2 separate regions of the Homo sapiens genome follow, and region 2 is linked to region 1. Evidence: fine-mapped expression QTL. A gene starts in region 1. The other region holds a variant in brackets. All regions are shown on one strand. Distances are from middle to middle.

What was found. PIP is the estimated chance that this variant, and not a neighbour inherited with it, causes the effect. A credible set is the group of variants that fine-mapping cannot tell apart.
Region 2: its variant is the best candidate, but not a certain one, in a credible set for the expression of OSMR in tibial nerve (GTEx, PIP 0.80).

What each region holds. Positions count from the first base shown.
Region 1 is chr5:38,843,942-38,849,319 of GRCh38, forward strand. It overlaps OSMR (oncostatin M receptor), which reads left to right and starts at 2,071. Exons shown (of 18, transcript NM_003999.3): 1 at 2,071-2,446. It overlaps OSMR-DT (OSMR divergent transcript), which reads right to left and starts at 1,888. Exons shown (of 4, transcript NR_109951.1): 1 at 1,727-1,888.
Region 2 is chr5:39,173,731-39,179,108 of GRCh38, forward strand. All of the region lies in intron 2 of FYB1 (FYN binding protein 1), which reads right to left. Among named protein-coding and RNA genes, the nearest start is that of FYB1, 43 kb to the right of the region's middle. RefSeq lists enhancers at 3,151-3,210, 3,241-3,320. The variant A/G (reference allele first, on the strand shown) is at 2,161.

The DNA of each region.
Region 1 (5,378 bases):
TCAGAAGTACAGCAGACACTGGATTAATCTTATATGACCTCAGGTTAACTTGATTAAAGCTGCAAAAACATTATTTCCAAATAAACTGATATTTGGAGGTTTTGGGTGGATCTGACTTTATGGACCCAGTGCACCCACTGTTAAGGGTATAATCGCGAATTTATATGGTGCTACTGCATCTAGATTCTAGAATAACGTATAAATTTAAGAAATTAGAATGGTGCAAAAACAGATAAATTATATGTGGGCACCAAATTTTTACACTTCAGTCTCCTTCAATTGCAATAGGAGCCCAAAATAAGCCTCACTTTTTAGAAATTCATACTGGGCTGAATATTTTTATTTGACATCTCATTTGCTAGAAGAGAGATCCCTTTTAACTGTTTCTATAAAGAATAATTTTTTTTCTCAGTAAAATATAAAATCATAAAGACTTTCCAACTCTTGGGCTTGGCAGTTTCCATAACCATGCAGATGGCTAAACTAATGGACTCTTTAAAACTCTTCAAGTAATGAGAGGTGTGGCAAAGGACCATACATTTATTGAGACAAAAATACATTTTATTATCATCAAATATTTACTATGCATCATGGTCTTTGTGGCCCCATTAGGTATTAAGTGTATTAGGGCCTTTAGGCCTTTGTTTTAGGAAAAATAAAAAAACAAAAGGACTCTCAGCTTTCCTTGGGATGACATTGGGGAGGAGCCAGATATGTGAACAAACACAAAAGTAACATTTTAAAATAATTCTGACATTATTTTGAGTCATCCAGTCAATTCAATATAGGATTCTAAGATATGTTTATGGTCGATACTTGTTGATCACTCTTGGTTCCCTCCCCCACCCCCCTCCTACAACCTTGCTTTTGTGATACTTTCCAGGGTCCCCAAACTCAAACCAAACTAGGCTCAGCTGATCTGGAGCAAGGCCCCTTGCCTGCTGATTTGTCAGGCATCCAGACAGGCGAGGCTATGGGAGCTCCCGGTCCGAGGCTGCCTCGGAAGGCTCCTGTTATCCTCTAAGAGAGGTGAAATGCACCTTTCAAAGGCCCAGACACGGTAAAGATTGGATGGCATTTTTGGCCGGGCGCAGTGGCTGACGCCTGTAATCCCAGCACTTTGGGAGGCTGAGGCGGGCGGATCACGAGGTCAGGAGATCGAGACCATCCTGGCTAACACGGTGAAACCCCGTCTCTACTAAACATAGAAAAATTAGCCAGGCGTGGTGGCGGTCGTCTGTAGTCCCAGCTACTAGGGAGGCTGAGGCAGGAGAATGGTGTGAACCCGGGAGGCGGAGCTTACAGTGAGCCGAGATCGCGCCACTGCACTCCAGCCTGGGTGACACAGTGAGATGCCGTCTCAAAAAAAAAAAAAAAAAAAGGTTGAAGATTGGATGGCATTTTTAAGGGGAAAAGTAAACCATGTGTAGCATGTCGTAGCATTGGGAAATAAAGGTTTCGGGACTGTTGTAGCCGAAGAAACTTTGTCGGACAGGGCGTTTCTGGATAGAACGCGAGTAGGGGAAAAATGGGGACCGTTTGATTCGGTTCAAACACGTTTTCGTTGCTCTGGACGCCAAATGGAAACACGGCCAAAATTTAGTTAAAGGACTTCTCTTGCCTGAAGATTTTCGGACGGGGATCTCACGGGTTTGGCCTCTGGGTTGGGATGACAAGTGCCCCTGTGGGATACACAGCCCCAGGCCTCATCGGTCACTCGGCTTACCTCTGGTTCCGCCGGCTGGCCCGTGCGTCCTTGGCCGGGGCAGGAGCAGCGCTGCGCGCGGGGCACGGAGCCTCGGCCGCCGAGTTTTCGGTTTCCAAGTTTCCTTCCCAGGCCTCTCCCACTTCCTCTTCTCACCAGTGCCCGCCCGCCCGCAAAGTCCGGGTTGTGAGGCTGCGCCTCCCCCAGGATCGCGGCCGCCTCCCCCCGGGACTGAAGGGAGGGAATTCCTGTGGGTCCCAGGAGTGCCAAGAGTGCGCAGCAAGACGGGAAATTGCAAAAGACCTCACCCCTCTGCCCTCCCCCGCGGTTTTCCAGTAACTCCCGCCCCTCCGCGCTTGCCCCGCAGCTGATTCATAGCCCCGGCCCGGGCCGCCTCTGCACGTCCGCCCCGGAGCCCGCACCCGCGCCCCACGCGCCGCCGAGGACTCGGCCCGGCTCGTGGAGCCCTTCGCCCGCGGCGTGAGTACCCCCGACCCGCCCGTCCCCGCTCTGCTCGCGCCCTGCCGCTGCGCCGCCCTCGGTGGCTTTTCCGACGGGCGAGCCCCGTGCTGTGCGGGAAAGAATCCGACAACTTCGCAGCCCATCCCGGCTGGACGCGACCGGGAGTGCAGCAGCCCGTTCCCCTCCTCGGTGCCGCCTCTGCCCAGCGTTTGCTTGGCTGGGCTACCACCTGCGCTCGGACGGCGCTCGGAGGGTCCTCGCCCCCGGCCTGCCTACCTGGTGGGTGAAAACTAAATGATTCATTCCTTACAGGCCGCACAGTGCCGAGTCGCCCATTTCTCAGACTGTTTGAAATTCACCATCCCAGCGCCTTTTTCTCAAATGATGGTGGAATGTTTGTTGAGTGGAAAATTCCCACTTGAATCCCTCTTTCCTCTCTCCCAACACATCGTGTGGAGGAGTTCATTGCTTCCCCTACCTCTCCTCTCGTAACCCTTGACTCCCACCTGAGAGAGCCATTTTTCTGGGAATCCGTGTATCTCTCCCACCTGGTCCCTAGCGTAGAAGCGGGAGGAGCTCAAGCACAGGTGGAGAGAGGAATCCCCGGGCGACTCTGCAATAGCGTCCGTCCGGGGCGCTTACCTTCTTCTCCAGCCACTTGAGTGGAAGTGGCCCTCTACATTCTGGAAACCTAGGCACGGAGGGGTTCAGTAACTTGTCCAAGGCCATATGGCTAGCTGTGAGGGCACTGAAATCCGAGCCCGGCTCTCGCAGGCCAGGGCTTTACCCCTGACACCGCGATTCCTTTCTCGATAGTTCTTCATCTGCCCTTCATCCACCTACCCATGCATGCCTGCATCCGTCCATCCATCCTGCCTGCCTTGCTGCGGGAGGCACAGTGCTAGGTGCTGCTGATGGAGTGGCTTGGTAACAGACCTGCCTTGAAAACACTTTGGGAACAAGATATTCAAGAGAAGTAAATGGAAGGGTCTATGAAGGCAGAGAAGATAGAATTGAATGTAGGATACTTAGTTTGAGCTAGAAGGAATTCTGATGGAGGAGAAAGAAATTTTTAGGTTTTATTCCCAAGATTAAAACTGACTTTGGAACATGGGTCAAACTACTTATCACCTCTTAGTTTCCTTGTCTGCAAATAATAATGGTTCATACTTACTGTGAACCAGCCCCTATTCTAAGCACTTGACATATGCTAGCTCATTTAAGCTTCACGGGTGAGGCGGGTACTAGTTTTTTATTATATTTTATTGAGGAAACTGAGGCCCAAAGAGGTTTTGTAACTTTTCTAGGGTTACACAGCTAGCAGGTGACAGTATCAGGATTTGGGTTTGGAGTCTGCTCATGATCACCGTGCTGTAGCTCAAACTCTAAGACTGGGTGGGGTGTTTCATTATGGTCTTGCTTTGTCTCTCTCCTGGGCTGCTTTAAAATGCACTCAGAGCCCTTGATGTCCCCAAACTCCGCTGTGTCTGAGAATCATTTCTTGAGCTTTCAAAGCATCAAACTCCAAACACAGCCTTCTATTCAGAATCTTCAGGAAATACTCAGTTTGTTTTCCCCGTAGCATTTGTTCAGTGCCTCCAGTGGCAGGAAGCTCACCACCTCACATTTTATTGTAGGAAGAGCTAGTTCTCTGCTGTAAATTGCCTCCTTGTGACTTACATCTTGGTCCCAGTTCCCGTTTGTCCCAGCAGGTGTGGCTAAGCCTTTTGTATCAAAGGTGGCTTTGAGAGAAAAAGGCTGGTCTTGGGTGTTTCTTCCGCAGGGACCCGAGCCGCATTGGGGAGAACACATAAACACTGGTTCTTTCCCCCTCTACCCTTTTCTTTAACCTGAACAGACCAGGAACACATGCAGAGGTGTTCCTGGATCTCTCATGTTTTTGTAACCCTTTTGTCCTGAGGACAAAACCGAATCAGGAGAACTGTTACGGTTTTCAAAGGGGAATCAGTGGTACTGTATTTAACAAGAAGAAGGTGTGTATTTTCCTTGTGGGAAAGGACTGGGGCATTCATTGGCTGCAGTAGAAGAGAATCTTAGTGAGTGTGGTCTTGCTCACTTACAGGAACTGTGAGCCTTGGCCCTCCTTTCGCTGGGGGAGAAAATCCTTCTTGATTGCTTAAAAAATGTGTAAAATGGGGGGAAAAAAACCCAAACCAAAACAAATAGAATATCATGGCCTTGCTGGAGAAATCCCCTCCTCCAAGCAGGCTTCTTTGTAGCTACATGAAGAGAGAATTTCTTTTCCAACAGCTGTGTTGGTGGCTTCATAGCCTTCCTTCCCTCCTCATTTTAGTTGTACTGGTCGCTCTGCATTTGTGCACTCCACGTTGTATTCTATTTTTGTGTTTTAAAAATAATACAAATAATAACAACTCATTCTCACTCAATATAGAAGTGAAGTGAAATGTAGACGTGCCATCACCATCCTCCCTCCTCCCACTCAGAAGAGGGAAGGTTAAGTTTGATAATACCATTCTAAGGCTTGTTTTTCTTTTCTATAGTTTTACATAATACATACATATACATATGTTTTAAATATGCAAATTATCTTACTATACTTATTGTACAGCTTGCTTTTTCACTTTCCAAGTCTTAGAGATCTTTCCATTGTCTCTAGATACCTCTTTTGTTAATGGCTACGTGTTATTCTTTTTGTGTGTGTGTGAGATGGTCTCACTCTGTCACACAGGCAGAAGTGCAGTGTCATGATCATGGCTCACTGCAGCCTCGACCTTCTGGGCTCAAGTGATCCTCCCACCTCAGCCTCCTGAGAAGCTGGAACTACAGGCACATGACACCACACCTGACTTTTTTTTTTTTGTATTTTTTGTAAAGATTGGGTCTCTCCATGATGCCCAGACTGGTCTTGAACTCCTGGGTTCAAGCAGTCCACCTGCCTTGGCCTCCCACAGTGCTAGGATTACAGGCGTGAGCCACTGCGCCCGGCCAGCTACATGTTATCCTAAAGTAGAAATAGAATGTAATTTATCCATCCTTTCCTATATTGATGGACATTCAGCATTAGCAACGTTGCTTCAGAGCAGATCACACATTCATCTTCCTGCTCAAGTGTGAGTATTTCTGTGGAAGAGAATCTGAGGAGAGGTATTCCTGTGTCAAAGGGTTTGCCCCTTTTTCCACTTGATAGATACGAAGTGGAAGGTAACGATGTAACTTAATATTTTTGTAA
Region 2 (5,378 bases), 330 kb after region 1:
TGTCAAAGATCAGATAGTTTGTAGAAGTGTAGGTTCATTTCTGGGTTCTTTATTCTGTTCAGCTGGTCTATATGTCTGTTTTTGTACCAGTATCATGCTCTTTGGGTTACTGTAACCTTATAGTATAGTCTAAAGTCAGGCAGTAAGATGCCTTTGGCTTAGTTCTTCCTGCTTAGTATTGCTTTGTCTATTCAGTCTTTTTTTTGATTCCAGATGAATTTTAGAATAGATTTTTCTAATTCTGTGAAAAATGACATTGGCATTTTGATAGTGATAGCATTGAATCTGTAAATTGCTTTGGGCAGGCAGTATGGCCATTTTAATGATATCAATTCTTCCAATCCATGAGCATAGAACATTTTTTCCATTTATTTGTGTGGTCTCTGATTTCTTTCAGCAGTGTTTTGTGGTTCTCCTTGAAGAGGTCTTTGACTTCCTTGGTTAGATGAATTCCTAGGTATTTTATTTTCTTTGTAGCTATTGTAAATGGGATTGTGTTCTTGATTTGGTTCTCTGCTAGAATGTTGTTGGTATATAAAAATGCTACTGATTTCTGTACATAGAATCCCTTTTGGGCCTATCCTATATCACTTATAGAACAAATGACCAAGGAATCAGAATTTCTGTTCCTAGAGATAGAACCATAAAACCCTAGGACTGAAAGTCTTTGAATTTACTGTTCCAGTGCTTTTTATATAATTTGGCATAAACAAACCAGTTGATTATTTGTGAAGCCATCTTCCTGGTTCTGCACAGGACTTTAACACATGGAATAAGAATATCATTTAGACTTAGGGATGACATAGCATAAGGAAACCCTGAAAAACACTCTCCCTTTTTATCAAAGATGAAAAATCCAAGGTCCAGATAAGTTTAATAAATGATTTACTCAAGGACACAAAGCTTAAAAACATGAGCTCCCGGACTAAAATCCTGTTTTTCTTCTTTAAGTCTGAAGTTCTTTCTATCATGCCATGAAATCAAAATAAGCTCTTTCTCTCTTTTTAGTTTGTTTAAAAACCTTAAAAAGATAAAACATAAGCATCTTATTTTTGTTAGTGTTTTCAGCATCTCAATGGTGAAATAACTGAAAAGGTACATGTTACTCTCTAAGATGAAAGAGGAAGCTAAGAAGAGACTAGGCAAAATGCAAAGTCAACAACTAATAGACTAAGGGCGAACAGAAGCAGGGAGACCTCTTCTCCCATAGAGAAACCAGTGTCTCAGCTTTTCTTTGTGATGAGGAGTACTGTAAAATTTTTTAAAAGTTATGGTTCTATTTGTTTGCTTGCTCTTACCTGTGTGTGTGCGTTTGTGGTGGGATGATTATTTAGGAGTAAGCAAGATTGACAAATAAACAATAAGGAGGAGGGGAATTGCTGATAGTCAAGTCTCTAAGCTGGGGAAAGGGAAAAGGGGCATGAGGTAGGAAAAGAGAACAGAATGGAGATCCAGCCAGGCAGACACTACATTGGCTATTCAACCTTCTTTAAGGAGAAACCAAGAATATGTCAAAGAAGGAGCCCAGTTGGTAGGCGTAGGGAGTTTGACAACAGCAACTGGGTTAGACATCTATCAGACAGGGAGACAGGGTTTGGAGAAGACTCCGGTTGATTGATGACTCTGATATAAGCGGTGAACATTGTTGGATTGAGTTGACACCATTCTATCAAGAAAGTGACTCACATGGGCTGGAGTATGCCGGTGTCCAATGGTTGTAACTAGCTGGGGGCTTCTTTTGACTCATTGGGGAAAACCTCTGCCTTCTTCTGGGACTTATAAAAGAGAAGTGACAAAACTTGCTGTGAAAGCAGGTAGAAACGCTGCTGTGTAATTTAATAATAGGCTCAACAATTTATATGCCCTTTTCATGCGGGTACATGCTGTGTGGAATGTTTCTGAGAGATTTTAAACTGCAGGCTCCTAACTACCCAGTATTCTTCCTGGCCACTCCTTAAAGAATGCTGGGCAGAAAGGAATCTCAGAACTCATTGGCTGGTGCCTCCAAATGGGGGTAGGCAGTACCAGCTTTCAAGGAAGTGTTTGGAATTGAGTGCTGGTGTTGGGGGAAGGGGTTGCTTTTGGTCATTACAATAGTGAATAACCTAGTGAATGCTACTGGCTTCTTAGGGGCTCAAGGTCAGGGAGTCTAAAATTCCT[A/G]TGATAGGAGAATTCTAATGGATAAGGAATAGTGTGTCCCAGACATCAGTGACATTCAAGAATATGGAATCACTCATTTTATAGCTGAGATCCAGAAGGATTATGTGCTCCAGGGGCCGGTACAGAGCACAGATCAGCTCTCCTCAAATACAGCCTCCCTTCTACGGGAACTCATTCTAGTGCCCCACAGTGGCCTCTTCATATTTGTTGTCTTGTGTTCAGAGAATCCCAAGTCATTTTTTTTCTGTTTTTTTTTTTTTTTTTTTTTTTTTTTTTTAAAGACAGAGTCTCACTCTGTCGCCCAGACTGGAGTGCAATGGCGCGATCTTGGCTTACTGCAACCCCCACCTCCTGGGTTCAAGTGATTCTCCTGCCTCAGCCTCCCGAGTAGCTGGGATTACAGGTGCGCACCACCAGGCCCAGCTCATTTTTGCATTTTTAGTAGATACAGGGTTTCACCAGTTGGCCAGGCTGGTCTCGAACTCCTGACCCCAGGTGATTCACTCGCTTCGGCCTTCCAAAGTGCTGAGATTACAGGCATGAGCCACCATGCCAGGCCCCAAGTCATTTTTATATTTGCTTAAGAACAACATGTTTAGAAAGGCACACTGCTGCTATTACAATCATTAACAAAAGATAATCTATACTTTGAAATAAAACAATGAAACATTTAACAACCTGCAACTTTGGATGATCATATGATTGGTCTTCATTTCTTGATTATTCTGACTGGTGTTTCTTTAAAAGTGCCAATCTTTAAAAAGATAAATGCTGTTTGTCTCTCAAAACAGTCATAAATTGTGGGAAAGGAAACAAAGACGAAAACATTAGTTTTTCAGAAATGAGGCTTTTTGTTAAAAGTAAAATAAAAATAGCAACACAACTTCCTGATTTTCTGAGTGAAGTTATTTCATGTGCTAGTTATTTGGTGTGGCTCCTCAAGCCCATTTTAATTGAGATGGTGTAGGCAGCTAAAAGAAATGCACTGGTAAAACCACAACTAGGTTTCATCTTGATAGGCAGGAGCAAAAACAGAAAGGAAAGAGGCCAGCCTAATTTCCAGAGACTGGGGGGTTACAATTTCAATTAGGCATCATGGGTGTGTGGGAGGAAGGCAGTTATCCTCATTCTCCTGTATGTTGTTTCTGACTTTGAAAGATGTAGACTATCTCAGGAACTTTTGTCCTGGCAACAGTAGAATATAACTTTTTGATGGCTTTCATTATTTCCAGGCATTGGTAGCTCACACTTATTTCAGTACCATCCTGAATTTAGTAACATCATGCAGTGGCCCCACAGGCTGGAGGCTAGACACCTATCTTGTTTCCTGAGGGCTGTGGCTAACCTCCAAAGTTTATTGTTTCTGTTGCTGCCTTCTTACTATTGTGCGCCTGCTACCTAGAGAGGACTCTATTTCCTTGGGGTAACTAACAAACCAAAGAAGTCCGTAACCTACCTGTTCCTTTAAATTCACAGAGCTATAGAGCTAGAAGGTATCTCAGGGGTGGTCTAATTCAACCTTCACATTTTGCAAAATGAGAAGGTGGTCAAAGAAGTTATTTGTCCCAGGTCTCCCAAAGCTGACAGAGTTGGGCCCAGGACTGAATCTCTTGACATTAAACCTAACCACATTGCTCAATGTAATAACTGCAGGCTGATTAAGTTCTCTACAACGTATTGTGCTCAAACTACTGATTGTCATAGAATCATTTAGAATGCAAAACTATTTTTTCCCACAGTGAGTTTTACAAAATTTGCCATTGTTTTACTTCAAACTTTTGAGCCTCAACATTTTATATATGAAATGGCACCAACAAAATCTGTAACTCTCTTCATTTTCTTTTTCACGTCCTGGAGATTGCATGTGTACGTGTGTATGCTTTGTGAGATAAGGTGTCTTGCAGCTCTGGCTTTGAACAACAAAGTTGCTGAAGCTGTTAGAAGCTGCAAGAATACCCACTTCCTACTTTACTGGTGACATATTTTTGCAAAGCTGTTCTCACTCCGCTTCCCCATCTCAAGCAAATTAAGATTTAGAACAATGACTTTAAGTTCCCTTTTATGCTACTTCTGCTCTTGTACAGTAAAATAGCTTTCCTGCAAACACAAAATATTTTCCACCAGTGAACTAAAATTGTAAGTATTATCTGTTACCTGCATTGACCTCATGCAGCATTTCCCCCAAAGTTAATTCCTGTGAACATTGGTCCTACTTAGATATTTTGGGAGAAAGAACAAAAAGGTTCTGTGGTCAAATATGATTTGGAAATTGCTGTGAATTATACTTTTCCTTTGATATTCATAGTGTTCATTACTGTCTCAAAGACTTTATAATAAGAGAACTAATTTAACTTTGCTTAACCCAAGATTTTCTGAATGTATTTGAATCATTTTTCCTCTGCAACATTCATGTGTGAACATCCTGCAGAAGGCTTAGTAGATGAGTCATGATGAGATTACAGTAGCGTTTATTGAGTGTGTACTGTATGCCCTACAGTTTTACAAGCACTTTAGTGGGATGATGCCTCTGTCAGGCTCAAATATCATAGAACAAATTCAGACTCTATAGTCGTCAAAATGCCCGTGGTTTAATTTTGGCTGTCCTTCCTATGAATTACATAACATTGTATAAATCACTTAATCTCTGAGCCTCTGAATCTTCACTGTAATATGGGAGAATAAAGACAGACTATGAGGTAATGTGGAGAGAGACGAAAATAAAGTTACTGGTAAAATATCCAAATAAAGTGGAAAAACATGGGCAACATTGAGGTTTTTTTTAACTGCAACAAGATTCAAAAAAATGCATAAGTCCTCCCATTATGTTTCTGATGACAACTGAGGTGAATTTAAAAAATCTTTAAAGAAATATCACCTGGGAAATTAACATTGTGTGTACTAGACAGCTTCCCCCCAACATCTTTTAACACATTGCAATAGTTTTCTGATAGGTACCGGATAATTTTCTTATAATCTTAGGAAATCCTTTATGTTAGGAAACGTATCATCTTGTCAAGCACATAGAAAACTGGCTGAGTTTGAAAATCTTCTATCTAGCCCTGGCTTTCCGCGGGCTGGGGCACAGAAGAGTCCATACGTAGTTTTGCATGTAAATGTCGGCTTGTTTGTTCCCACACTAGCTAACAAGAGTCCTTTTAAGTCCATGATAATAACAGATAATATTTTTAGAGTGCTTCCTGTGTGCTAGGCACTGCTTT